Regions from separate parts of the Homo sapiens genome. Here region 2 is linked to region 1. Evidence: fine-mapped expression QTL. A gene starts in region 1. The other region holds a variant in brackets. All regions are shown on one strand. Distances are between the middles of the regions.

Region 1 (8,346 bases):
CAGTCTTTTGGTAAGTTGGTGCCACATAACTTTGAGATTGTGATGAGTGTGCACAAACTTGACTGTTGTACTCTCAGAAAAGTGATTTGACCCCTGTGATAAGCAGAAAATAAAAGATTCCTGTCCTCCAACTCCGCCAGAAAAACCATACTAAGATAAAAACCATATGCAGGAAGCCATGATCAACTGGAGAAGAGATGGCGTGGCCAAAGTTCTAATGCTACCTGTCAGAAAACACCCCCTTTTGCGGAAAACCATCAATTGGACAAGAAATGGTGTGGCCAAAGTTCTAATCAGAAAACACCCCGTTTTAGGGAAAACCATCTTTACAGGTGGGTAGATCCAAACTACATCAAGCAGTACTCCAGAAAAAAAAAAAAGATTTGTTTTTTAGCCTCAATTTAGAGCTAATGTCCTTTAAAATGAATCTTGAGTCCACAAATATCTTTTGAACACTCATTACATACAAGATGCAATGCTTGGCACTGTGAGAAGAAGTCCTAGAAGATACACCCTGTGCTCTAAAAAGACCTATTCATCTAGCAAGCTATTACATTTTTGTGCAAATAAAAACTGTTTAAAGGTGCGCATGTGCCAAATTCAAGAAATGATACCACCTTAGTCAGCACTTGATAGTGTTCAATTTTATTTTGGTCCATTAAGTGATGCTGTTTTTGGTTACCTGACATATTGTTCAGCATTCCACATGATATAGAGTGGAGAACTAACAGGACTGTAATTCATCAATTTCCCTGGGATGGTTGCATTTGTATGTTAGACAAAAACTTCTGTCCTGGTCAGCTGCAAGTGCAGAGATGGCAGAGAAGCTAGTTGCTATCCTTCAAAGTGCCACAAAGTCACGGGGGAGAGTATGGACAAAGCAGGCTGAAGCCAGCGCTCTCAAGTTTTGCTGCCCACGGCCTTCTGTAATTGGCACATGGACATTATTCTAACAGCGATAGACGGTGGATACACCAAAGCAGAAAATGAATGGGTTGGTTGGGGCTGGGGACTCAAAGGAGACAGTCTTGACAGCAAATCTAGCAGCTAAATCCAAATTAAGCAAACCTGCTAATGCCACTCACTTAAAAAAAAAATCTTTCTTGCTCTCGCAACCAGAGCACCCAAGCATGATAACTGAGACCACAAGAAAAGGACAATGTGTGCTGAAAGGAAATTTGAGGGCTAACTTCTGTTGAGGGTAAATTTGAGTGATATTTTACTTATGAGCAGAAATCCAATTTTAATGTTGAGAAAGTGAGCTCTAATGGTCCGTTTGGAGCAGTGAGAAGGACGCTCTTCTCTGAAACACTGCATCAAGGACAAGACCACGTCTAGCCGGAATGAGAAGAAAAGTTTCTGGTTTACCCTAAAAGTGAAGTGAAAACAACACTGGGGAAGGGAGGAGATGTTGTGGGGGGTGGGGGCGCATGGGCGGTAGAGGTGGAGAGCCTTGGAAGGACAGGTTGTTTAACTGGAAGCAACTAGGGGCCTACATTATACCTATTTTCTGCTATCATCTAGAAATCAAAGCAGCAGCATTAGAAAAATTCACCCTTGTTCCCTTTTTGTATTGGCTGTCAAGAAACTCAACACTGCTTCTGAACCTTTATCTCATCAACAGCAAATATGTCAGCAGAATATAATAATGTTTTCATAGTACCCTGGGTTAAATAAAAAGGCTGCTGTAGGGCTAGAGGCTACTGCTGAGGGCTCCTGGGAATGAGCATCTAAGGAATGTCAGTATTCCATCAGTGGCAGTTAGTGGACACACACCAGTTAGGAGATTCTGAATTACAAATTGGCCTATTATATGTATCTATATCTTATATATTACATATTATGAATTGGCATATTATATATATCATATGTATGCATATATACCATATATGATCTTAGTTTTAGGCCCATATATTGGTCCATATTTTTGTAGTACTTGTTCTTTCCTCATAATAGATGGCGTTATATCTTTTATTTCTCTTTACATAATCTTACTTGATTTTAATTTCAAATTTCTCAGTTATTCTTTAGGTAACGTGTGGAGTACAAATTTAAAATACCATGCATATTACTTGGTGTGTTTGCTGTGTGCTAGGACCTATGATTTTACTGCTGTAAACCCACAGCAATAATAATAATCCTACTTCTTGGCAGGGTGAGGAAGCCAGCTTTTTTGAGGATTGGATAAAATCAATTCAGATAAAACATTTAGCCAATGCGTGGCACCTAGTAGGTGGGCTTTACACGGTAGACTTATTATTTTTCCATTTAATACTCCAATTTCCCTTTGTGGGGAATCGGGGGGATAAGAAAATGCAAGCTTCAAGGAGTAAAGGGCTGGACACAACCACATAGATACAAGACACTAAGCAAGAATTAGGAGTGCTCCCTGGCTTCAAAGCTGGTGTCTAAAACGTCTATCCCCTAAGGGGCCCTTGTATCGTGTCATGTGTCAGACCCCGGGTTGAACGCGAGGATTTTTGTGCTGTTCCCAGGGTCTCTCAAGAGCTCTCCTAGTACCGACCTCCTTGTGCTCGGTGGCCCCTGGCCCGAGGACCCCAGATGGGTGGCGGAGAAACGCAGGGGATAGAGACTAGCCCCCTAGCCGGGCTCCGTGGGCCCGGAGTGGATTCAAGGACCGGTGGCAGAGGGCGACTGCAAGTTGGCCCCGCAAAGCCAACAAGGGGAAGGGTAGGGTAGTGACGACATCACCTGGTCCTTCAATAGCCTCCCGGGAGGCTTCAGGAACTCACATCTCTTTCCCTTGACGAACAACGCAGGTGGTTTGCTGAATTAAGTGTTCCCGCCCCAAATTGAGATACAACGGGCTTTTTAGCCAGATTGGCGCAGACTGGGAGTTAAATCCAGCATTTTCCCGGCAAAGCTGAGCCTGGCCGCCGCGGAGCCCTCTTTCCGCTGTGCGGTGCCTCCGGCTCCGATCGCGGGCCCGGCGCCCCGGGACGCGCCGCCGAGGGTAGCTACGCGGCCGGGCTGCGGCCTCTCCCGGAGAGCCTGCGTGCGTGGTCTCTCTAGCTTGCTGCCCGCCGGCCAGGAAAACTCTGGGGACAAGCTGGAGCTGGCGGAGGTTCCCATCCGGCCACCCTTCCCGTCTGATTTCCTGAGCTGACGGTCACCGCCGGCGTTCGGGGACCAGCGGTTCCCTGTGCAAAGGGCTCGTTTCTCGATCGCCGCTGGATAGACCGCAACCGGGTTCTCAGAAAACACCCGAGCTACAGACCGCATGTAGCTTTAAACAGTTTTTAAAATGCGATTATGCTTGCGTCTTTATGAAAGCACATGGATGCAGTTATACGTATGCATTAAAAAACACAAACAATTCTGCATTGATTGCAAAGGAGCGCTTTCTGGTGGCAATGTAAACGGTCTAGTTTGAGACCCGTGATGACACACGTGAACTGAGTTGCCAAACTCATAGAAACTCCACACGGTAGATCTGTACATTGTGTCCCGTGTTAATTGTACGTCAACTGAAAAATCAGAACTTACATGAAAAGTACGAAGTGCCACTGCATACACGCATATCTAAAAGCCGGTAAGATGCGGCTATAGATGAGCACATTTACAGCAATGAAGGGCCACTCTGCCGGGTTGCTAGCTTATTCAAGCTTCGCATCGCCGGGAAAGGGATGGAAAGGCAGCTGACATCACTCGGGGCGGGGCCGTGAGTCCTGTGAAAAGTCGATGGGACTCGAGCAGCAGCCTCAGCTGCCTTGCACAGCCTCGCAATGAGCTGCCACAACTGCTCCGACCCCCAGGTCCTTTGCAGCTCCGGGCAGCTGTTCCTGCAGCCCCTCTGGGACCACCTGAGGAGCTGGGAGGCCCTCCTACAGTCGCCCTTCTTCCCGGTCATCTTCTCCATCACCACATACGTGGGCTTTTGCCTGCCCTTCGTGGTCCTGGATATCCTGTGCTCCTGGGTGCCCGCCCTGCGGCGCTACAAGATCCACCCTGACTTCTCGCCATCCGCGCAGCAGCTGCTACCTTGCCTGGGGCAGACCCTCTACCAGCATGTGATGTTTGTGTTCCCCGTGACGCTGCTGCATTGGGCCCGCAGCCCGGCCCTCCTGCCCCACGAAGCTCCCGAGCTGCTCCTGCTGCTGCACCACATCCTGTTCTGCCTGCTACTCTTCGACATGGAGTTCTTCGTGTGGCACCTGCTGCACCACAAGGTGCCCTGGCTGTACCGCACCTTCCACAAGGTGCACCACCAGAACTCGTCCTCGTTCGCGCTGGCAACGCAGTATATGAGCGTCTGGGAACTGTTTTCTTTGGGCTTCTTCGACATGATGAACGTCACACTGCTCGGGTGCCACCCGCTCACCACCCTGACCTTCCACGTGGTCAACATCTGGCTTTCCGTGGAGGACCACTCCGGCTACAACTTCCCTTGGTCCACTCACAGACTGGTGCCCTTCGGGTGGTACGGGGGTGTGGTGCACCACGACCTGCATCACTCTCACTTTAACTGCAACTTCGCTCCGTACTTTACACACTGGGACAAAATACTGGGAACGCTGCGGACTGCATCTGTCCCAGCGCGGTGATGTGGCTGCGGTGGGTGCCCCTAAGACTCGGGACTGCTGTGCCTTTCACACTTGAATGAAGAGAAACACCTGAGCTATATATTTTTTTAAAGCAACTAACTTATTGCTTTATGTTTATCTATGAAAACCATAGATAAAATCTGATGCATTTTTGTAATCTGACAAAGTAATTTACATACTGTTTGTGTATCAATACAATTTTGTGTTCTTGGTATTCTTAGTCTAGCTCACCTCAATAGCCTTGAATCCTGCATATGAATTAGACATTCATCACTGGCATATTTAGAATATCTCTAAAAGGACTTGTTTGTAGAATAAGGAATTTTCTATGTTTCAAAGTGTTCTAAAACCTGGCTAAAAGAATGTATTTTTGTGGATGGTGTTGACTTCTGACTCTAAAAGCAATCAAACATGTTTCTGCTGGACAGTGACCAAGAATTATAGTACCTTCTTATATTTTTTTATAGAACTGTATATTTATTTTGAAAGAAATGTTATTCGTGCTTTAAAAAGGAAAAAAAACCATGAATCAAATAAGTATTGACTTCCGTTTCACTGGTATTTTGACTGATAAAAAAGGGAAGAGGGAGCGGGCATACCAAGTGTCCTTCTAAGCCTCCATCAGCCTCACCATGGAAAGAGAGGAATCTGGGTGTAGGGTGTTCTGTTGGGGGTTGTTAGAGAAAAGGAGGCAGGAGAAGGGGCTCTGTTTGTTGTGCTCTAGCAATTTCATGGAGGAAAAACACGCTAATATTCTTAATGCTTTTCAGCTGATTTCTGTATAACAGGCAAATGATAGGATTACTCTGTAAAGTTTCATAGAAAGATTAACGCTGAGCAGTCAATCATTTTATTATTTGTGGGAATGGATTAGGGGAAGAACAGAATTGGAGGCGTGCCTTGCTTTGCAAAACTGGTGAGTCAATAGTATACACTAGAGTGGCTGATAGATGTGCAAGGGGATTCTGAGGAAGCCCCTGTTTTCATGAATCCATCCATAGCTACTGCAAATGAACATCAAAGCATTGCTTCTGAAATCTGGAATTTCTGTATATTCAGTTTTCTTAATTAAAACATACATGCAGCAGGTACAGCCCTTTCTAAAAGAAAGATAAAGTGAAATTTGGCCCTGGATCCCTGATTCCTCATGTGGAAAAGGAGGAGGTGTCCCAGATGTTCTTGCAGATGACAGTAAATATTCCTATTATTAACCACACACCCATCACCCATCACTCACCCCATCTAACTCCTGCCTATTCATTTTAGTTTTGTTTTTGGAATATATATAGTGTAGAGTTAAAAATCAAGACAATTTAGACACAATATAAAGAATGGCAGCTTTGTGTGTAATTCTTGGCTCATTATATTTGAACCAAACTGTCATGTTTAAAGGTAAAGCATCCATTTAGAGACCTGGTCTCCACGGTCTGCCAAATGAGACTCCCAAGAAATATGGTTAGGCCCTCCAAATGTTTGGCAGAATGCCCCAGAATGTGGAAGCTCACAGCCAGTTTTCCCATGTTCCCTTCAACGTGTGTGTTCCTTTAGCTTCTTGACTGAAGTTACCTCCTCCTCTGTCTGTATCAGGACCAGGCTGGGATTTAAAGATGATATTGATTTATAAAAGTGAAATCCATGAAAAGAGGAAGTGAGATGTGAGGAGAAAATGCTACATTGACGGTAGTATATTATTATCATGATGCACGTGGCACCTGGAGTAAGAAGAGACGGATAAACAGGCAGGTGTGGAATCTATGGTGCAACTATGAGTTGTAAGCAGCTGTAGGCACTCCAAAGCTGCCCTGTAAATCATGGATAATAACAATTTATCACAGCGTATCCTCAGAGAATTGTAAAAATGTATCATGTTGCATCACTGCATAAGGTAATTTTAGATTTTGGGCAAATTATACACATGGAAAGTGCACAATTTGGATTTAGAAATACTTTCTTACAATCGAATGTCTTAACAGTTTTTAATGCCTTGGGAGGTAGAACCGCGGAAGTGGAAAGGATGAGCAATTTTTCAGATAGCTTGAGAACCTGTTAATAAAAATAGTAAAGAAAAAGTTCATATGCGCATGCGCTGTCACACAATTTCTCACTTGCTCCTTACAACAACACCATAGGGATGTAGAATAGTTACTATTATCATCATCACCTCTGTTATGGATAGAGGATTGGTACCCACACAGGTTAAGTACTTTTTTCCAGATTACAAAATAGGAGGAGTGGGAGCCAGTTCTACTAAACTTAGGTCTGGTGGTGTATACTGTGCTTCTCTTCTGATAACTGCCAGAGAGCTGCAAACCCTGCAACACCAACAAATGGCCTCCCTCTGTTGTTCCTCCTTTGTTACTACCCCTAAAACAGTGTTACCCTGGCCCACTACTTCACTTCCACATGGCTGCCAAAGCCTCTGCCTGGGTAGGGGAGAAAGCCAGGGGAGGTAGAGCAAGGCCAGTCTAAGCAAGCCCTGGGAGAGCAGGAGGCAGGTCAAGGACTGTTTTCTGCATCCTTCATTGCACCTGTGCTACAAACGCAACTATTGCAGCCAGATTACCTGGGTGGGAATCTGGGTTCTGGGACTTACTAGCTGAGTGGCTTTGGATAAGGTACTTAACCTCTCTGCCTTAGCTTCCTTATCTGTTGATCATAGACTGTTCCTTGCTGAGTTGTTGTGAGGGATTTTTGAGTTACTAGACGCAAAGTGCTAGATGAATCCGAAATCCTGGCTGTAGTCGTGTTTGCTGTGACTGATGCTTCCCAGTGTGAGTGCTAGGACTGCAGTTCAGAATGGTCAAAGCTTTTTGTTCACAAACATGCTTGTGCTCGCTCATATTCCGGGGAATCAAATAAAGCCAAGTTGTTGGTTCTGCTTCCATCACAAGCTACTTCTCCCACCATCCTTTCAAGGCAAAAGTTTTATAAAGAGAAAGAAGTCTATGTTTGTTTGATTCTACTTCTTTACCTCTGAGTCATTCTACTCCCATTCCTCTGGAAACTTTTGCTCTGGGTTGCCTACTAATTTCCTAATTCTCAAATCCAGTGACTTTTCCCTGCTTGGTGTTCCATTTCCTTGGCTTTCTTTTCTTCTTCTTCTTTTTTTTTTTTAGAGGAATTTTATTTACAAACCAGCTCATCTTGGAATGTGGTTCTTGCTTTGCTTTAGTGAGGTTTCTCTCAACTCCTTTCCATCCTCATTCTCCAGCTGTTCCTTCTCTCTTCAATGGCTCTTCTTTCACCACAATAGGGAGGCAAGCCTCAAGGTGCTCCTCATTTTACTAAAAAATACCTGTATTGTTTATAATTAATATCCTCCCTACCATCTCCTAATGTAGTCTATAAATGTCCTACTGCATTGCATTCTAGTAAATAAGCACAATGTGTATACGCATGTATATTCACATACACCATGTATATGTGCATATGCATGTAACATGTAGACACGCTATATATGTACACACTATACACACAAACTCTATGACTACATGCTATTATATGTACACATAGATGTATTTAAACACTATATACATATGCTGTATATATGCACACATATATAAGCACACTGTATAGTATATATGTGTACACATTATATGTACACACACTATATATGTAAACATGTACAAACCTGCTATATTTGTACTAGATGTGTATACACACACTATGCCTCCTCTTCTCTCTCTCTTCACATACATAAACATAAACACACAACTATTTTTTTCCTATCTACCATTTATTTCTGCCTGTAGTACTATGCCTAGTTCTTAATAAACATTGG
Region 2 (8,346 bases), 90 kb after region 1:
CCCCAAATTATTACAGGAACCACTTCCCCCATGTGACTTACTGAGCCTTTTTGCTCAACTTCGGCTATTGCCATTGGGATCCTGCTGCATCTTAAAAGGGAAGTGACTACTCTTTATGATGGACAAGATTCTCCTTCTCTAGCCTGATTAGATTCCCCATCCAGCATGTATTCTTATATACATAAGAAGCCAGATTTTTCCTCATAAATACTTAAATAAATATATAAAACTATAGTGAAGATTCCACTTTGTGCTGAGACTCAAGTGGCTTTTGCTGATTTCTGCATCAAAGCCCCAAGAGAACGCAAGCTGACCTAGAACCAAAGTCTTTCAAAAGTTGAGGACACAAGAATGCAGCATTCCTAAGGAAGATATTTCTAAAGACTGGGGAAATTCCAGTATTTAAACATTGTAGCACAGTTAATTATCCGTGTTGGAATGTGGAAGAAACCCACGAAATAGCCCTCCTGTTTTCTGACTGATTCTTACTCCAATCCATTCTCAGTATCACTGTGACAGTCATTTTTCTAAAATCCTTATCAGGTACAGCCAGTCCTTTGTTTTCAGTCTTCACTGAAGCCCATCCCCATACCTTGTTGAAGAATCTGGACCCTTCCTGCTTCTCCAGACTCAGGTCCTGTCACTCTCACCTCACCTGCCACAACCCAGCGATGTCCAGCTTCCTAGAGGTGCCCCAAAACACTGTGCTATTTCATGCCTCCATCCCATTGTTCACGGTTTGTCCTTCACAAGAAAGTCCCACTTCTGTGTCCATTTCACAAATGTCACTTCCTAGTCTTTGTTCAAAACCCAAATGTTCATCTCTGTATTATTTTTAATATGTAAAAACTGGGAATCTTATGGATTTCCACTACCATAGAATGAATAAATTGTTGTATATTCACACAATAGGATATTATATAACAATGAAATAGAGCAGAATGCAACTACACACAACAACATAGGTAACACTCACAAATAATTGAGCACAACAAGCCAGACACAAAAGAATACATGCTACTTAATTCACTTCATATCAAGTTCAACAATCATACAAAATTCATCTGTGGTATTAGAAGACAGGATAGTGGTGTCCCTTGAGGAGAATAATGGCTGGAGGAGGCAATATGGGGAACTCTGGGATGCTGGTAGTGTTTTCTTTTTTGATCTGGGTGCTAATTATATATGTGTGCTCACTTTCTGAAAATTTATTGAGATGTATTATGATTTTTTAACCTTTATGAATTATGTTTTAACAAAAAGTTGAAAGAAAACCCAAAGCCAACTCAAGCACTATTTTTGCAAGATAAAGGGAATTATTTACTTCTAGCTATCTCTGTATTGTGTGCATTTTTTCTTTGTAGTTGCTTTGGTCACACTGAATTGAAATGTACAGGGCTACATTTTTGTTGGATATTTTGCCTTTTTGTTGGATATTTTCTGTTTGCCCCTTTAGATTCCCTTTGCTTCCTTCTCTGGCACACTCTGTATTCCAGGAAAACTCTGTATTCCAGGAAACTTTCCTGGATTGAGTGTGTCAATAAGCTTACTTTTACTCCAGTTGGGTTCAACCAAGAGGAAGCACCAGCAAGAGCAGAGTGAAAGGAGAGTGAGGAGGGAGTGTTTACTTACCCCCTCCTTCTCTGCCAGCTGCTCCTAGTTGGCTCCCTCCCTCTATTAAAGGCCATGGCTCTTTTAGCTGGCCCTGTCAAAGGCTGCGGCTACCCTCTCTGAGCTCTCTCCCTTTGCTTCTTCAGGCCTAAGGATAGAAACACCCCCTTGCTGGTGTATTTTACCATTCCTTGTTTGTTTTCTTTAACCTTACTCACAGCTTTGTAAATAATTCCTTTATTAAACACTCCTTAGATATGCTGTTTGCCTGTGTATGTGTTTTCTTCTTGGACTTGCTGATATAGTACACTTTCCCAACTCTCTATCAGCAATCCAAAATCTGTGATACCCAGTTTTATTCATACTTTTATCATCCTAAACCACTAAGTAGTCCCTCTCAATAGTAGGCACCAAGAAATATTGCTTGAATCTTTTATATCCTTGTGAACAGCCTAAAATAATATAATTGTAGACAAAATACAAACAGCACAAAATGGCTAAATTTTGAACTTTGGTGATGGATACATAAGAGTTCATTTTACTATTCTCTCTACTTTTGGGAATATCCGAAATTTTCCATAATTAACAAACTTTTTAAAAGGGTCTTTAACCATTAATTGCTCCTTGCTTTGTCTTTCTTGAAGCTTTGATCTGGATTTTTTTTTTCTTTCCTCCTCATTCTACATTTTCTGCCTAGTGATTTCAATCATATCCACAGTTTCTACTGTCAGTTCTTACCTGGATTATTGCAAGTTTCCCAGCTTGTCTTCCTGTCTTGGATCTATATAATTATCTTTTCCAAAGCCAGAATAGTGTTTTCTAAGATGTATATCATACAATAAATTCATTCTTTTTTTTTTTTTTCAGAAATATTAACCAACCATTATACGCAAGCAAGCTACTGTCCCAAGCACTGAAAACAGATGGGTTCTCTGTCCTCAAGCAACTTAAAGTTAAACGGAAAAAGACAGAACATAAATAAATGTAGGTATAAATATATTTTCTTAAAAAGCATGTTTCTACTATCTATAGCTATGTAATAAGCTGTCTCAAGCCTAGAGCCTTAAAGCAACATTTACTTTACTCAAAAATCTGCAGTATGGATCTGGCTCACCAATGATAACTCATCTCTGGTCCTTTCATTGCCACCTGTGGCAGTTCCCAGACTGGGGGCTAGAATTATCTGAGATATCACAGACTTACATGTCTGACAGCTGATATTGGCTCAGTTGGGACTGTGTTCAGAACACCTAAATGTGGTCTTTCCATGTGGCTGTTTGGCTTCCTTAAAGAACAGTGGCAGGAAGAGGGGTTAGAGAACCAGGTGAAAGCAGGATGTCTTTTATGACCTGAACTGGAAGTCAGCAGCCTCATCCATGAAGCTTCCATTTATTAGAAACGAGTCACAAAGCCTGGCCCATACTCAAGGGGATTAATCTATGTTTCCCCAGGGCCTACCCCCCTTCCCAGTACCCAGTGCATAGTAGATTCTTAATAAGTGAATTATAGATAACTGAATTATAGCCCTTGTCCCATTGCATAAGTGTTTATATTTCTTTCACCTAAGAGCCCATTTGATTCAAGGATCAAAGTGATTAATCA[CTCAG/G]GACTACACAAGTCGTAACACATGAAAGATGCTTAGTTATCTTTGAAGAATGCACAAAACCACACTTCACAACAGCACTTGGGTCATACATGACAGCTGTTACCCTCCAGCAGTAATAGGAAGGCACATAATTATCCACCAAATTATCTCAAACTCCTAACAGAAATTCTTGTGATTATTTTTCCCTATTGAATTTTAAGTACTTAGCAGAACACCACACTGAAGTCCAACATACATTTATTGAGCAACTCCAATGTGTAATGCCAATGAGGAAGATTTGAGTATGCTTTGATAGTTAACACCAAAGGGGGAAATTAGTGTGACTAATTAAAAACTTGACAATGCATAGTTCCATGGAAATACACTGGAATTCTCTAGTGAATTTTACAAATGGATACTGTTTTATGAAGTTACTTCATTTTTTTCATACTGTATGTATGCAATAGATTATTCCAAGAATGTATATATATTTTTATTTTCTAGCTTCAAAATAAGTGTTGAACTTCAGTCTGTGTATTTGATATCTTCTGTGATCAAGAATCTTACCAAAAAACTAATCAGCACCATAGTAGGAAAACGTGATCGTTAAAGCAACTGAAGATAAAACAGTTCTTGAGGAAAAAGTCTGACTTCATTTTTCTGTCATATCCTACTAGACTGAGAATCATAGAATTTGATTTAAAAGGTATAGTAGTTTTCTATGGCTTCTGTGACAGTTTTCCACAAACTTAGTGGCTTAAAACATCACAAGTGTATTATCTTACAGTTCTGTAGTCTGGCATGAATTTCACTGGGCTAAAATCAAGGCATTGGCAGGGCACCTGCATTCCTTTTGTAGGCTCTAGGACAAGATTCATTTTCTTGCTCCTTTGGGCTGTTGGCAGAATTCAATTCCTTGTGATTTTAGGACTGAGGTCTCCTTTTTTATTGCAGTTATCCATTGAGGGCCTTTCCTGGCTTCTAGAGGCCCCTACATTTCTTGGCTTATGGTTCCCTTCTTCCATCTTCAAAGTCAGAAACTGTGATTTGAAGTCCTTTTGTATTTGAATCTTTCCTCCTTTCATCTCACTTCTCTGGTACATTCTTCTTCCCTAGTAGGAATCACATGAATAGTCCAAGATAATCTCCCAATCTCAACGTTCTTCACTTTTACATTTGCAAGTCCCTTTGACTATGTGAAGTAACACATTCACGTCACAGTGTCTGGGGATTAGGATGTAGACATCTTTGGGGTTGGAAGTGGGGCATTATTCTATCATACCTTCCACAGAAAACCATATTTCCACTTGTTTTCTCTTTGTCTTCTCTCACCTGGCATCTTTTAATATACAAAAACCCTAAAGTTACTAGACATTTAGAGAAGTTCTTCTATCCACCCTTTTTAAAAGGAGTAGCAAGTAACTATGAAATCCTTAGTAATAGCAGAGATATGAAATCCTTAGTGATATCAGAGATAGTGACACTATGACCTGGATGAATAAGAACAAATATTTTAAAATAGTATGACTTTGAAATATAGGACATTCTGTTTCTCGGGGGCTACTTCTTTTTATTCACACTAACTTAATTTTTAAAAAGTTATTCAAAATAGCTTACTTGGAAATAAAGGGGACTTTCAATGCAGTGGTTTTAGAATCCAAGGCAGGAAGCACATTTGAACTACACAAAGAACCATCTGCAAAAGAAGGAAAGCCATCAGAAACTTTCCCCTGTCTCTTCACCACCTTCTCCTATACTGACTTCCCTATCTCCAAATGGTGTGTACTGACTTCTTTCTGTGCTTCTCCTTTTCTCTCATTACCCTTCCCTGCTTCTGTCTGATCTTGGTGCTTTTCTCTGCTTGCTCATGGTTACCCCAGTTCCCAACAGGGCTTCTTAGTTCAAGTTCCAGGAGTTGACTCCCTGGAGTCAATGAGTCATTTAAATTCTTGAAAAGACTCTTTGGCATTTCTTGAGTCAGATGTCATCACTATTTTAATGAACTGCGACTAGAGGACAGGACCCTATACAGTGCAAATGCCAAGGGCCATTGTCAGATTGGCAGCCAAACTTGTCTTCTCCCAGTGTCCAACCTTATTATTTTAATATGTATTTTGATTAGTTACCCTTCAATACTTTCTCTTCTCCAATATGGATAATTTGGTATAAAATGCTATATATTTTATTTAGTCACCATTTTCTTTATGTAGTATATATTAAAACGTTATGCCGGCCGGGCGCGGTGGCGCACATCTGTAATCCCAGCATTTTGGGAGGCTGAGCCAGGTGGATCACCTGAGGTCAGGAGTTCACCACCAGCCTGACTAACATGGTGAAACCCCATCTCTACTAAATACAAAAAAATTAGCCAGGCATGGTGGTGCATGCCTGTGATCCGAGCTACTTGGGAGACAGACAGGAGAATCGCTTGAACCTGGGAGGCAGAGGTTGCAGTGAGCTGAGATCATGCCATTACACTCCAGCCTGGGCAACAAGAGCAAAACTCCATCTCAAACAACAACAACAACAACAAACGTTATGCCTTGATGAGGTTCCTATGGCTTAAAAATACAACAACTTTAGAGATTAAAACACTCAACATTTTGAGACTAGTGAATCTCAGCTCTGTCATCAGGAGGAGAGAGAAAAATTTTATTGTCAATGTATGATCATATAGTAATATAGAGTTCATATTTTTAATCTGAAATTTCCATCCCCCAAATCCATTATAAGGTGATACATGCATAGCAGCTACTGGAATAGATAGTTTTGGTAGTTATTTCATTTAATTTGGCTCTTACCAGGTTTCCTGACATGAATTCTTTCTTTGGATGTCATCTTTGCCTTGATCCCAGGAATCTTCTGCTATTCCAAAATGCTATTCTTCTCAAACCAAAACTCTCTTCAAATTCTTTTAATACCTTTTCTGACTCATTTTCCTTTTCCTTTAACTGCAGATATTTGAGTCCCTTTGCCCTTCCTCCCCATTGTTCTCTATTCTAGACAAAAATATTTTTTTTTAACTTAGAGATTAGTAGATTCTTTTGGGAGTCATTAAAAATTATTTTTCTACAAGCTTGACATGATCTCTTATTCCCAAATCCAGAAAATCTCAAATTGTGTTATTACTATATATGTGTTTATATATATGTGTGTATATATATAAACACATATATATTTAATTATATATATAAACACACATATATTTAATTAACAATGTGCTTACTTGTCTGCTACTAAACAAACCAGTTTCCTTAGAGACAGGAGATAGGCTTTCTTCTGCCTCTCAGCCATAACACAGTTTCTGACACATAGAAGAAATAATTGAATGAATACATTTTATGAACATTAACGTACATTCAGTAGAGATCAATTTTTTTTTAGATTTGTAAAACATTAGTAAAGTAAACTAATAAAAAAGTGGTGAAATCTTTAATAGGGGTGTATTCAGGTACATTCAAGGCCTGGTAGTTACCAGAATGATTTGCTTGCATTATTTCTTAATGTCTGGATTTTCATTCTGACAGTTCCTCCCCAAATATTATCCATCCATTCAATGCTCAGCTCAGATGTTACCTTGATTCTTCTCTGATTATCTGAACTTCAGGTGATCTCTCCTTCTTTGAACTCCTATTGTTCTTTGTACAACTTTGGTGATAATTACCAACATGTCAATGAATTTAGCATACTTCTCTGGATTGCTGCCATCAGTGAATTCATTTTATTATAAACTTAAGATTACAAACTCCTTGTGTAGCATGCAGATCTATTTAATTTACTTTTGTTTACTGGGTCTCCCCAAACACAGTACTTTAATCTAGGTTAGTGATGACCAGATGTTTTCTGAAAAAATAACATCTAATTGTATTTGTTTACCCAACTAAACCTTAGGCAACTGCATCTATATTACTAGTTCTAGATAAAAAGCCATGTTGGATTTTAAAAGTACTGAATTTTACTACTGTACTTTGATTTTCTAAAGATGGTAGTGTATATTACACACGATTCTCATCTCTTGAAGTTTACTATATTTTCTCTGGTATGAATTTTGTCAGAGTCAACTGGAAATCCAGTGGCCGAAGTTTTACATTCCAACTTGGAAATTTAGACAATGTCTCTTTAATTTTTGGCAGTATAAATAAAAACTGAATTTCTTACATTGGCTATATGTTTTCCAACATGCATTACTGATTGAACTTTCTGATATTTATACAAATGTTGTGATGTACTACAGACTTGATGTACAGACTTACATTATGGTTTCTTTTCTTTGAAGCTTTTACCTAGCCATTCCAAGCTAAAATGATAGCTTGGAGGTGAAAGGCATAGTACACAAAGAGCACAATTCTGTTTGCTGATGACTTGATCTTACAGATAAAATCCTAAAAACTCCACAACAAAATGTGTTAGAACTCATAAACAAATTCAGTAAAGTTATAGAATACAAAATTGACTTACAAAAATAGCGTTTCTAAATATTAACAATCAACTACCTGAAAGAGAAATTAAGACAATCCCATTTATAATGGCAGCAAAAAACAACAACAACAACAACGACAACCAAAACACCAAAAACAACTCAGTAGTAAATTTAACCAAGGAAGTGAAAGAGCTATATACTGAAAACAATAAAACATTCATGAAAGAAATTGAAGATGACTCAAATAAGTGGAAATATATCCTTGTTCATGGACTGGAAAAATTAATATTGTTAAAATATCCATACTACCCACAGAAATCTTTAGATTCAATGCAACCTCTATTAAAATTCCAATGCTGGATGGGCGTGGTAGCTCATTCTTGTAATCCCAGCACTTTGGGAGGCCAAAGTAGGAGGATTGCTTGATACCAGAAGATCAAGACCAACCTGGGCAACACAGTGAGACCCTGTCTCTACAACAATAACAACAACACAATCCCAATGGCATTTTCAAAGACATAGAAAAAACAATCCTAAAATTTGTATGGAACCACAAAACATCCTGAATAGCCATAGTAATCTTTACCAAAAAGAATGAAGCTGTAGGCATCACACTGCTGGACTTTAAAATGTACTGCAAAGCTATAGTCCTCAAAACAATATGACACTGGCATACAAACAGATACACTGACCAATGGAATAGGGTAGAGAACCCAGAAATAAACCCACA

Direction of the effects. Alleles are on the strand shown, and positions count from the first base shown. SD is a standard deviation of normalised expression in the study named.
For the expression in fibroblasts of the gene that starts at base 3,722 in region 1, G is the high allele of the variant in region 2 and CTCAG is the other (small effect, 0.24 SD a copy in GTEx).

The links. PIP is the estimated chance that this variant, and not a neighbour inherited with it, causes the effect. A credible set is the group of variants that fine-mapping cannot tell apart.
Region 2: its variant is the best candidate, but not a certain one, in a credible set for the expression of CH25H in fibroblasts (GTEx, PIP 0.89).

What each region holds. Positions count from the first base shown.
Region 1 is chr10:89,202,693-89,211,038 of GRCh38, reverse strand. It overlaps CH25H (cholesterol 25-hydroxylase), which reads left to right and starts at 3,722. Exons shown (of 1, transcript NM_003956.4): 1 at 3,722-5,410. The coding sequence starts at 3,747. The coding sequence ends at 4,565. LOC105378418 (a long non-coding RNA gene) reads right to left here. Exons shown (of 4, transcript XR_946180.4): 4 at 6,540-6,608. RefSeq lists an enhancer at 3,881-3,950.
Region 2 is chr10:89,113,166-89,121,511 of GRCh38, reverse strand. No RefSeq gene overlaps it. Among named protein-coding and RNA genes, the nearest start is that of MIR4679-2, 54 kb to the right of the region's middle. The variant CTCAG/G (reference allele first, on the strand shown) is at 3,214.